Linked DNA regions of Homo sapiens: region 1 is linked to region 2. The links come from fine-mapping of genetic effects on gene expression. A gene starts in region 2. The other region holds a variant in brackets. All regions are shown on one strand. Distances are between the middles of the regions.

Evidence for each region. PIP is the estimated chance that this variant, and not a neighbour inherited with it, causes the effect.
Region 1: its variant is the best candidate, but not a certain one, in a credible set for the expression of PPP3CB-AS1 in whole blood (INTERVAL, PIP 0.77).

The regions. Positions count from the first base shown.
Region 1 is chr10:73,435,076-73,440,456 of GRCh38, reverse strand. It overlaps PPP3CB (protein phosphatase 3 catalytic subunit beta), which reads left to right. Exons shown (of 14, transcript NM_021132.4): 13 at 556-585; 14 at 2,037-4,024. The coding sequence ends at 2,215. Among named protein-coding and RNA genes, the nearest start is that of MSS51, 4.2 kb to the right of the region's middle. The variant G/A (reference allele first, on the strand shown) is at 3,164.
Region 2 is chr10:73,493,484-73,498,864 of GRCh38, reverse strand. PPP3CB-AS1 (PPP3CB antisense RNA 1) reads right to left here and starts at 3,113. Exons shown (of 5, transcript NR_132104.1): 1 at 3,048-3,113; 2 at 2,382-2,723. It overlaps PPP3CB (protein phosphatase 3 catalytic subunit beta), which reads left to right and starts at 2,841. Exons shown (of 14, transcript NM_021132.4): 1 at 2,841-3,060. The coding sequence starts at 2,976. It overlaps USP54 (ubiquitin specific peptidase 54), which reads left to right. Exons shown (of 24, transcript NM_001391956.1): 24 at 1-1,327. The coding sequence ends at 236. RefSeq lists enhancers at 2,635-2,824, 3,315-3,774 and a silencer at 2,905-3,254.

The DNA of each region.
Region 1 (5,381 bases), 58 kb after region 2:
CTCTTGCAGCTTATGTTTTGCCTTATAAATTACAAGTAACAGGTAAAGCATTGCTGACCCCTTCTAGTTTATGTCTTAGGGAACCAACTGGTAATGAGTATTGTTCTCACTGACATGAAAGAAAAGACTTTTCTGTTTGCTTTTCTGCTACAATTCTATTATAATTTTACCCTAGAGCATTTTCCTGTGATTGTGATGGATGTGATATAATAAACATAATGGAAAATTCTAAGGCCATCAAATTACTGATTCAAGATGGGTAATTAATACTGGAGTGCATTTGCATGGGTGCTGAGGTGTCTGTGTTTACAGTAGGTTTATGTGTTCTGTGCTCTGAGTGATGTTGTCATAGTGCTGTGTGTAAACTGTGCTGTGTCAGGAATTGGGGGTTTGGATGGGGCTCTCTAATTTGGGTACTATTTATGTTAAATTTTAAATGATGATGTAGTATGGGATACTGTGATATTTTAAGTGATCATTGCCTTTTCTGCTGTACAATATGACCCTTCTCATCTCTCTCATTCATTTTGCATGCCTCTGCTCACTTCTGTACAGCCACAGTTGAGGCTATTGAGGCTGAAAAAGGTATGATCAGAGTCCTTGTGCTGGGCAGAGATCTGTGGTGTGTGGGTGGGCATCAGAGAATGTCCTGTGGGTGTGTTTTACTCCTAGCTTTTACAGCCCAAGATGAATCAGACTCACTGATTCATCAAGTTTAGAAGCCTTGCAGCCCTCTTTTTTTAATTTTTCATTTTTAAATCAGAAGGGCTGATGTCTATGGTGACAGTCTTTTTCTTCTTTCCGGTGTAATATGCAATCAGAAAGTAATGTTTCTGATTTCTTTAGAGTATAGCATGTTATGCTATACAGTATAGCTTTATAAAGTTGCCTGTTTTAATGGAAATTGCCAAACTGACCTGCAAATAGAGATCTGTTCCATATTTTGCATGATTCTATGCTACTCAGATTTTTTTTCCCTAAGTGAATCCTCCTCTAGGTATAGGTGTGAGTTTGTTTTTACAAACTAGTGTGCCTGACTGAGAATACAGGAACTGTCACTATAATGATTTTCTTTTTTCTTTTTTGGCCGCAGTTTGGGCTATAGTTTATGGATAAGATTATGTTCATATATATATGTGTTGGCTTGGTATTTCACATTCCTCAGTGTTTGTAGCCCCAGCCATTTGTTTGGTTCATGTGCCAGACTAAGACCTAAGGATTGCAGATATTAAGCAACCAGATTATAACCAGTGGTTTGAAAATATTTCCTATGAACACTTTAATAATGGAGGATGCATCATTCTAGATGAAGTGAATGAGAAACCATACAATTGGTGGAGAATTGCCATTTATTTTGATTTGAGTTTCCAAAGACTGTGCAGTATGGCCAATGAATTAAGGAGAACATCTTCTAAATTACGAGATTATAAATACTTTTTTGCTATCAGCCATACACAGATCTAACTCTTGGAGGCACTTCCACCTTTTTAATGTTATATTGGTGGCGATGGGCTGACCTTGACCTCCAAGATAGTTCTGATCTACTGTATTTTAACCTTTCTTTAACTCTTTCTCCTCCCAAGCTCTTGGTACAGATTTGTATATTGAGGATTAACCTTGTTTAGCCTCCTCACTTGCCCCTACTCTCATTGCTGCCTTACTGTGATAGTCACTGGTGATCTTAGGGACTGATGTAGGAGATAATTGGTATAGTAGAAGTCAGACTGAGACCCTGAGACCATTGCCTGGAGGTTGATTTTGGGGGCAGGAGAGGGTTAACATTTTTTTTGTATTTTTATTTTTTGGAAGGCTTTGCTAACACTTGTCACCTATAAAGCTATGATGTTTATATTTAGGTTTAAACATTTCACATTTTAAGGAAAGACTGAAATGAGGATAGGATTCAGTTAAAGTAAGATTTATGTGTTGCTACTTACAGCTACTAATTTCTTTCTTCTTAAAAATCATTAATTATGTTTTTGAAATCTCAGAAATGTTTTTCAATTACTGACTTATCAAATTTGCATTTTATTAAGCAATACGAGGATTCTCTCCACCACATAGAATCTGCAGTTTTGAAGAGGCAAAGGGTTTGGATAGGATCAATGAGAGAATGCCACCTCGGAAAGATGCTGTACAGCAAGATGGTTTCAATTCTCTGAACACCGCACATGCCACTGAGAACCACGGGACGGGCAACCATACTGCCCAGTGACCCACTACTTCCCAGGGACTCTCACATCTCGGGCCCCAAATGGACAGATCACCCGAGGAGCTGGAGGGGTCGGCCAAGCTGACTGTAAATTTCACAGTCTCTCTGAAGAAACCATTGTGCTTCTGAGACCCTAGCCCCCTTCCTGGATGGAGGCTTGAGGGCCCTGGGACATGTGCTATCTGATAAGATTGGGTCATCGCTGCCAAGGTGGAGAGCAGTGAGCAAGGGGCTTGGGGCAATTTCCAGTGGAGGGCATCCACACCTCCATTTTATGCTTGTGGTTCACACATTTAAGTTTACAAATCAGATTTCTTTTCCCCTTCAGTAGAATTAGATTTTGTTTTTCAATCATGATTTCAAATGCAATCCTAAGAGCTAATGTGGACTTTTCTTTTTCCATGAAATGTCTTTAAAGGATGAATTAGCATGGTCTTAAAATACATTTCTGAGGTTACTAGCTGTATTTTGAATTGTGAGCAAAATGCCGAGAAACCCAGTTGGCATTTATACAAAATGTTGACCTCAGGTCTATAGTTCTTAAATGTGGCTAATTCTGTAACATAGTCTTGGTATTTTTTAATTATGAATGCATATCCTATTTCCAGGCAGGCTCTCTTACTTGAACACAAATCCAAAAACTAATTTAGAGTCTTTTTTGCCCAGATCTTTTAAGACTTACACCCCAGAGATTTAAGAAGAAAACCTCTAAATTTCAAAATTATGAAGAATTACAGAATTACTCATTTAAGGTACTTTAAAAGAAGTTTGTACATTGTCAAAGTAAATTTTAATTCAAATCATGTCTGTAAAACTTGACGTATTTTGTGTATGCATGTTTTCATTTTGCAAATATTTAATATATAGACCTATGATGTACAGGTACGACATGTATAGGTTACCTAGATGTTATGAGAAATTTTAGTTTATTGTGAGTACTCAAGTTGCTTA[G/A]AGAGCCACCAGGGTGATTTGCTGCTGGCTTTCTATCATTTTTATGTTTTAATGCAAAGGAAATTTTAAAATGTTCTGGAAGTGTTTTTGATTAAGCAATGCAGCCTAGAAGCAATGGTTCTGTTCAATCATTCAGATGTTAGTGGAAGCATAAAAGTCAAGACTGCATGTTGAAACCTTTCTTTTGATAGTTACTGAACTGCTTGGTTAAACTAAATGGAACCATGTGCTAATTTTTCACAATTATTGACCTGTATTGATTGCCACTGTAGTTTGGTATTTCCCTTTACTTTGGTGGCCTGCTTCCCTCATGCCCTGGAATACAACTCAGAGCTCCAGGCAGCGGAACCATCTATTGTTTTGTTTGCCAGAAAGTGCACCCTGTATGGTCTCCTGTCTAAGTTGGAAATATTATGCATGTGCAGGACTATTCGAGTATTTTATAAACAGTAGCACACAATAAATTCCATGCATGGGCCGCTGCTCCTATCTCTGTGTTGGGTTTTATTTGGAAGATGCAATCTGATTTGTCCTTTTGATGCAAATCAGAAAATCCTGTTACTAGAGCTGGGATGTCCTCCGGAGATTATCTCGTGGATAGTTCATGGTAATTTGATTAATTAAATTCTTTATAAATTTTGCCTTAAAAAAAACTTTTGTTATATACTTGTTTTACATGAGCATTAGTAACTGAGCACTAGAGGACTTTGAATGCCTACTGTAGGCCTCCTAAGTCTAATATTTAAGATCACTGTTTATTGTCTTTTAATTGAAAGAAAATATGTTATTGTCTAGAATTTTGTTATAGTGGTATTGGGAATTTACTGGGTGTTCTAACAATAAGAAAAATATTAGTGATAATTGCATTTTCCTATCATTCCTTTCTTCTTTGTCATAATCACAATAAGTATAGGATTTTGCACATTGAGGGATATTAGGATATTGCTCAAAATTATATAATCATACAATAACTTGAATTATAGTTCTCAACAATAATTACAATGAGATATATTATAAAACACTAAGTCAAAATATAGGCAGGGCACAGTGGCTCATGCCTGTAATCCAAACACTTTGGGAGGCTGAGACAGAGGATTGCTTGAGCCTAGGAGCTCATGGTTGCAGGCTGTGTTGAGCTATGATTGTACCACTGTACTCCAGCCTGGGTGACAGAGTGAGACCCCATCCCTTAAAAACAAACAAAATATATGTAAATATATTAGGCAAGCGCACACACACACACACACACACACACACACACACACACACACACACATGCTTGCCTAATTCCAGGTAACAAACAGAACTTCTCAAATTGTTTCTTTTTTCTTTTTCTTTTGCTTTTTTTTTTTTTTTTTTGAGACGGAATCTCTGTCTGTCACCCAGGCTGGAATGCAGTGGCATGCTCTTGGCTCACTGCAACCTCCGCCTCCTGGGTTCAAGCAATTCTCCTGCCTCGGCCTCCCAAGTACCTGGGACTACAGGTGCCCACCACCACGCCTGGCTAATTTTTGTATTTTTAGTAGAGATGGGGTTTCACCATGTTGGCCAGGCTGGTCTCAAACTCCTGACCTCGTGATCCGCCCACCTCAGCCTCCCAAAGTGCTGGGATTTCAGGCGTCAGCCACTGCACCCGGCCACAAATTGTTAATTATTATAACTCTCTGCTTGCCAAAATATTAACTTACAAAGCAGTCCATGAGTTGGCTCTAAAGTTATTATGCATTGCATACCTTAAAGATTGTTGTCTATGTTGTTTATGAAAGTTGCATACCTTAAAGATTGTTGTCGATGTTGTTTTATGAAAGCTATTCAGTAAAGAGTTTATCTGGCTAAAATAGACCCAATAGAAAAATTAAAAAGTAAGTAAGAGTTTAACTAGTATATTAGGTGCCAGGAACTTTCCTAGCCCTTAGGTACATAACTAGCATTATATAGTGTTTGTGGGAATCATGGGTGAGCATTAAGTAGTATTAGCAAAAAAACTATGGATTGATGGTAAAAATTAAGAGGAAAATAAGAGAAAGGAACCAAACTCAGGAAAAGCAAAATACCTGAAGAGTGATAAAGTATCACATAGTGCCTCACAGACCACTTCCTACATGTTGAATAGGAACCTCTTTCTAGTCTTTCTTCATAATTCATTTCACAGCATACCATTTATTAAGATTTTTTAAATGCAACTCATGATGAATACAAATTGTGAAAAGTTCAGACT
Region 2 (5,381 bases):
CTAGCAGTCTTCATGTACCCCTGAGGTCAGCTTGGAATTCAGATCCTGTTCCAGGGTCCCGAACCCCTGGTCCTCGAAGAGTAGATATGCCCCCAGATGATGACTGGAGGCAAAGCAGTTATGCCTCCCACTCTGGACACAGGAGAACAGTGGGAGAGGGGTTTCTGTTTGTTCTATCAGATGCTCCCAGAAGAGAGCAGATCAGGGCTAGAGTCCTGCAGCACAGTCAATGGTAAAGGTTATTCCTTTCCTTTCCTGGAGCTACACCTTTCTTTGTAAAACTGTACTGTGGGCCGGGCGCGGTGGCTCACACCTGTAATCCCAGCACTTTGGGAGGCTGAGGCGGGTGGATCACGAGGTCAGGAGATTGAGACCATCCTGGCCAACATGGTGAAACCCCGTCTCTACCAAAATACAAAAAATTAGCCAGGCGTGACGGTGCGTGCCTGTAGTCCCAACTACTCGGAAGGCTGAGGCAGGAGAATTGCTTGAACCCGGGAGGCAGAGGTTGCAGTGAGCCGAGATCGCACCACTGCACTCCAGCTTGGCAATAGAGTGAGACTCCATCTCAAAAAACAAAACAAAACAACAACAAAATAAACTACTGTGGCAGCGTTGGTACCCTGCATCACTGCCATGGTTGTGCTATTCTCATCTCAACATAGAATTGGTGGGTTCTCCTAAGGGTGTCAGGAACCTCTAAAAAGATGTGATTCTTTGGGAGGGGATATTTGAAATTCCAACTTCCATTCCCCCTAGCAAAAGGAAGCAGCTGCTGTTTAAGGGTTTTATCTGAGCCACTTTAAAGATGAATCCATGGTATTACTCTGGATACTAGCCATTCCTTAGGATTTTAAGGTCACATTTTATTCCTGGATGCTTTATGTCCCCACCTCCACCTGAGCCCTCATCCTCTGTTCCCTACTATACTCCCAACTTCTACTCTTTGTTTTATCCACCTATCCCTATTACCTGACCCTTTGTCTTCCCTGTCTCCCATCCTTGGGGGGACATGTAGCCCTGTGGTCATGGTTCTGATGACATCATCAGGGCAGCCCCCCTGCCCAGGTATTATGGCCTGTCAGCATTCCCTGTGCCCTCCAAACCTTAGGCCTAGAATGCGGAGCTGCCAACATAACATTCACCCTTTTGAACAGATGGAGTCAGGCACACTAACACAGCCTTCTGTCCTCAATAACACAGCCATTATTGCCACTTGCTCAGTCGTCAATGTAAACCCTCAGAGTCAGCTGAACTATTTTAGGCCAAACATACTGTTTTTGTAAAGTATTTTTCATTAATAAATCTATAAGACAGTTCTATTTAATTCCTTGTCATTCTTCCCTTTGTATGCTCTTGCTTTCTTTGTATTGGGGCTGGAAGTCTGGATAAATATATGAAGTGGCTTTTGACTGAGTGGAAGTGAGGAGCCAGAGACGAGTTGAAGGATATACAATCAAGGTGGGAATCAATGGGTCCTAAAATAGGGTGCCTTTCCTTTCTAGTATTGCTGCTAGGATGTTTCCCATCCCTTTCCTGACAGAGCATTCAGTACTCAGTACATTATACACTTCCTTCCTCCCCTCCTTAGGAAGATTTTCTGGGGATTCAAGCTCTTCTTACAGACTCACTCCTGATCAATGTACTCCAGGTGCCTTCCCTCTATCTTATAAGTTTGTGACGTGCCTCCTGTCCCTTCCTTCCTCTCCTTCCGTGGGGGCCTCTCCCTTTCCCTTCCCCTGTGGTGTTATGGCCCTTCCATGCCAGAAAGATCCATTTTCACCTGTGCCTCACTCCCGAGACTCTTCCCTCTAAAAAATAGCTTGTGGGTTCCCTTTTTGGAAAAAATCCATTGTTGGGTCTTTCCCTTCCTCTTTTCCTGGGGTCTCAGGATAGAAATTGACACAAAGAAGAGGTAGAAAGGTACTCCTTGGACCTTCGGACTACTACTTACTTACCACCATGCATTATGAACAGATTCTGAGCACATGTATTATTGAGCAGGAGGATGGGCAGGAATTGGTTGTTCCATCCCACTTGGATCCTGCACCATCAAGATATATAGAGCTTAGTGGATATGCTGGTCCCTGTCCATGATTCAACATATCTCCTGGTGTCGTGGACACACTCATCTAATAATTTTTGATGAACAGTCAGTTCTTGCCCCTCTACCCCCTTTCCCATGAGTGTCAGTCACCGTGGTCTCTATAAAGGTTCCATAAGTCACCTGGGCCCAGATTCTGTGCATGTGCAGAAATAAGGAATTAATTTCCAATTCCCTATTTACTCCTCTGCCTTCCAGGAGGAGGTTGTATCCTTTTCAGGTGAATTCTTCAGATTCTTTGCACATCTCTTGGTGTCATCCCCTTTATTCCCCTTACCTGTTTTGACAAACTATGGCGCCTAAATTGCTCTAGCTGCAGTCTTATTCTGTGCTTTCAGACTCTTGACAATTCCAGACTCTAAACACAAAGGCCAGAATTCTCTTTCAAACTCCATTTTGGATGGTCCCTTCTCCACTCTAGAACCTACAATGCTTCCTCTATTCTCTGGTCCCCTACCAACCCTTCAGTATTCAGATCTGGTAGCTAAATCGTTATACATTTCTCTATTAGTAGGAGATCCTGAGGTTTAATCACGTCTTCTCAGTTTACTGGGAATGCCATGAGAGCGGGTGTGTTTCCTCGCAGTCGTTCGATCGCAGCACCTCCTCATTCTTCATTCTGCATGCAAAGAATTTTAACCTGATCCCTTGGCCTCGTCCTGTTTCTCTCCTAGCTTCAGTAATTTTGCCCAAGTCCCTAGAGCCTACCCCGCCCCCACCCCCGCACGCGCAGTGCATGCCGGTCTTAGCCCCTCTGTAGGGAAAGAGGGTCCGCCATGTTCCCCGGCGGCGCCGCCGCTTGGCTCTGGTAGCCGCCGCCCCCGCCCCCAACCCCGCCCGGCCCAGAGCCTAGCCGAGCCCCGGGCCCAGCATGGCCGCCCCGGAGCCGGCCCGGGCTGCACCGCCCCCACCCCCGCCCCCGCCGCCCCCTCCCGGGGCTGACCGCGTCGTCAAAGGTGAGAGGTGGACGAAACCCTGGGGGCCTGGCCTGAAGAGCTAGCTGTGTGTGAGGGCGGGCGGGAGACCGTCCCCTCGGGAGTGGGCCCGGAAGGGCGGGCGAGTGACTGGCTGCCTCCCTTGGGGAGTGGCCCCTGGGCGGGCCCCTGCTGGGCAGGGCTGAGTCGGTGGCAGTGGTTCCGCGGTCTCCCGGTTGCTTTCAGGCCGGGGCGGAGGTTTTGCTTCCGTGGCTTCCTAGCCCAAGGGGTGAGGCTGTTAGCTGCAGTGAGCCCGTTTTCTCTTCACTCGGCCTGTCAAAGCGGCGCAGGGGCCGCGATTAGCTTCCTGCCCCGCGACAGCTGCACTTCTGGCTTGCCGGGGCGAACCGAGGGGCTCGGAGACCTTCAGCCACGCGAGGCCCGCCAGTGAGCAGTCAGAAATCACCTCGGCTTTGGCCCACGCCTGCTCCCCGGTGACAGTCGTCCGCCCTATCCGCGTCTAGCTGGCGACAACCGCAGGGGTTCACTTTTGGCCGTCAGGTGCCACCCGGAGCAGAAATTAGGGGAACCTTGTGGGATTGGATCACGGTGAAGGGTCGGGGCAGGAATTGGAAGGCCAGCCTTTATAGTGCAGAAAGGGAGAAAAAGCAGCATAAACGAAAAAAAAAATTCTTGTGGATAGCAAGTATTTACTTAGAAAACCATCAACACTTTGGTCAAAAGGAGTTACCCCTCCCTTACAAACACACACCCACACATTCATCCTAGACGAAAAAGTTAAATGTTTCTCAGCCAGGGCAGAATTTATGGATGTTTACCCACAACAGGTCAGCAGATTAATTTAAAATAGAGAAATTGAGGGCTAATTGAGAGTTGCTTAAGATTCCAAGCTTCCTGGGAGAGCCTACCAACCTCAAACACTGCTGTGGAGGTGAAAAACAATTGAAATGATTCTCTTTACCATGTAGCTTGATTGATAAATTGAAATCGTAGAATGAACTTTTCCTTATTTGTATTGTATTTATTTTTAAAATATAGGTACTTTTGTTTTCATTCAGCTTCTCAAATACACTGGCACAGTATTTAAACACCGTTAGCCTACTTTTTGAAATCTGACTCATATGTTTCCATTAAAATATTTAAAAACAAGGAAACCTTTTTTCTTTTTTTTTTTTAATTAAAAATTTTCAACCTGAGCCTTCTTCGGTTCTTAAAAGAATAATACTAATTTGGCCTGGCGTGGTGGCTCACATCTGTAATCCCAGCACTTTCGGATGCTGAGGCAGGCGGATCGCTTGAACTCAGGAGTTGGAGACCAGCCTGGGCAACATGGCGAAACCTTTTCTCTACCAAAAATACAAAAAATAAAAATTAGCCGGGCATGGTGGCGCGCCCCTGTAGTCCCAGCGGATCGGGAGGCTGAGGCACGAGAATCACTGGAGCCCGAGAGGCAGAAGTTGCAGTGAGCCGAGATTTGCGCCAGTGTGCTCCAACCTGGACGACAGAGCCAGACCCTGTCTCCAAAAACAAAAACAAAAACAAAAACAAAACACTGATTTGCACCTAGGCTTAAGTTAGTAGTATATCCAGTTGGGCCAGGCATTGGAATGAGCTGAATAACGAGTTTATGGAATCCTTAATACAGAGAAATCTTAAAAAAAAAATAGTAATGCAGACATTCATTCTATCAAGAAATCCTGGAGTTTTGTGGGGGTGGGAACGGGACATTGGCTACCTCTTCATTTTCTGACTGTATTTCTGTGTTGTGTGTTCATTTCCCTGGGCACTTTTCACCAGACTGTTAGATGGGGTAACCAATCACATTCCTGAACAATGAGTTTATGCTATCCTTACGTTTGTGAATCTTCTTATTCCTTGTCATATATATGGTAATGTTTTTTCTGTACTGCTTTAATGCAGTGAAAATAAGATTCCAAACATAAGGCAGATTCCTTAGGGGTGAGTTGTGAGTCCAAGGCAGTCATATTTGCAGGTTATTGGTGTGGAATAAAAGCCATTTGATTTAGATAAATAGGAAAGGAGCTTGTTAATATAGAAAATTATAGTTAAATAAAGCTTATGGTTATCATATTTCTGGTGCTTCATTGTGCCCTCTTCATAGAGACAACTTTCATTTCTTTATGGAATTTGTTAACCAGTTGGAATTCCTGTATGGATTATATGTTTTAAAATGGTGTGTAACAGACTAATTTGCACTGCTCATGGAGTCTCCTGCATTTACTGGGAAATTCACCTTTCTTACAGATCCAGAAATTCACTTTTAAATTTCATCTTCAGGATTCTTCCTTGTCTTTTATTCAGTAATTATACTATAATGTGAT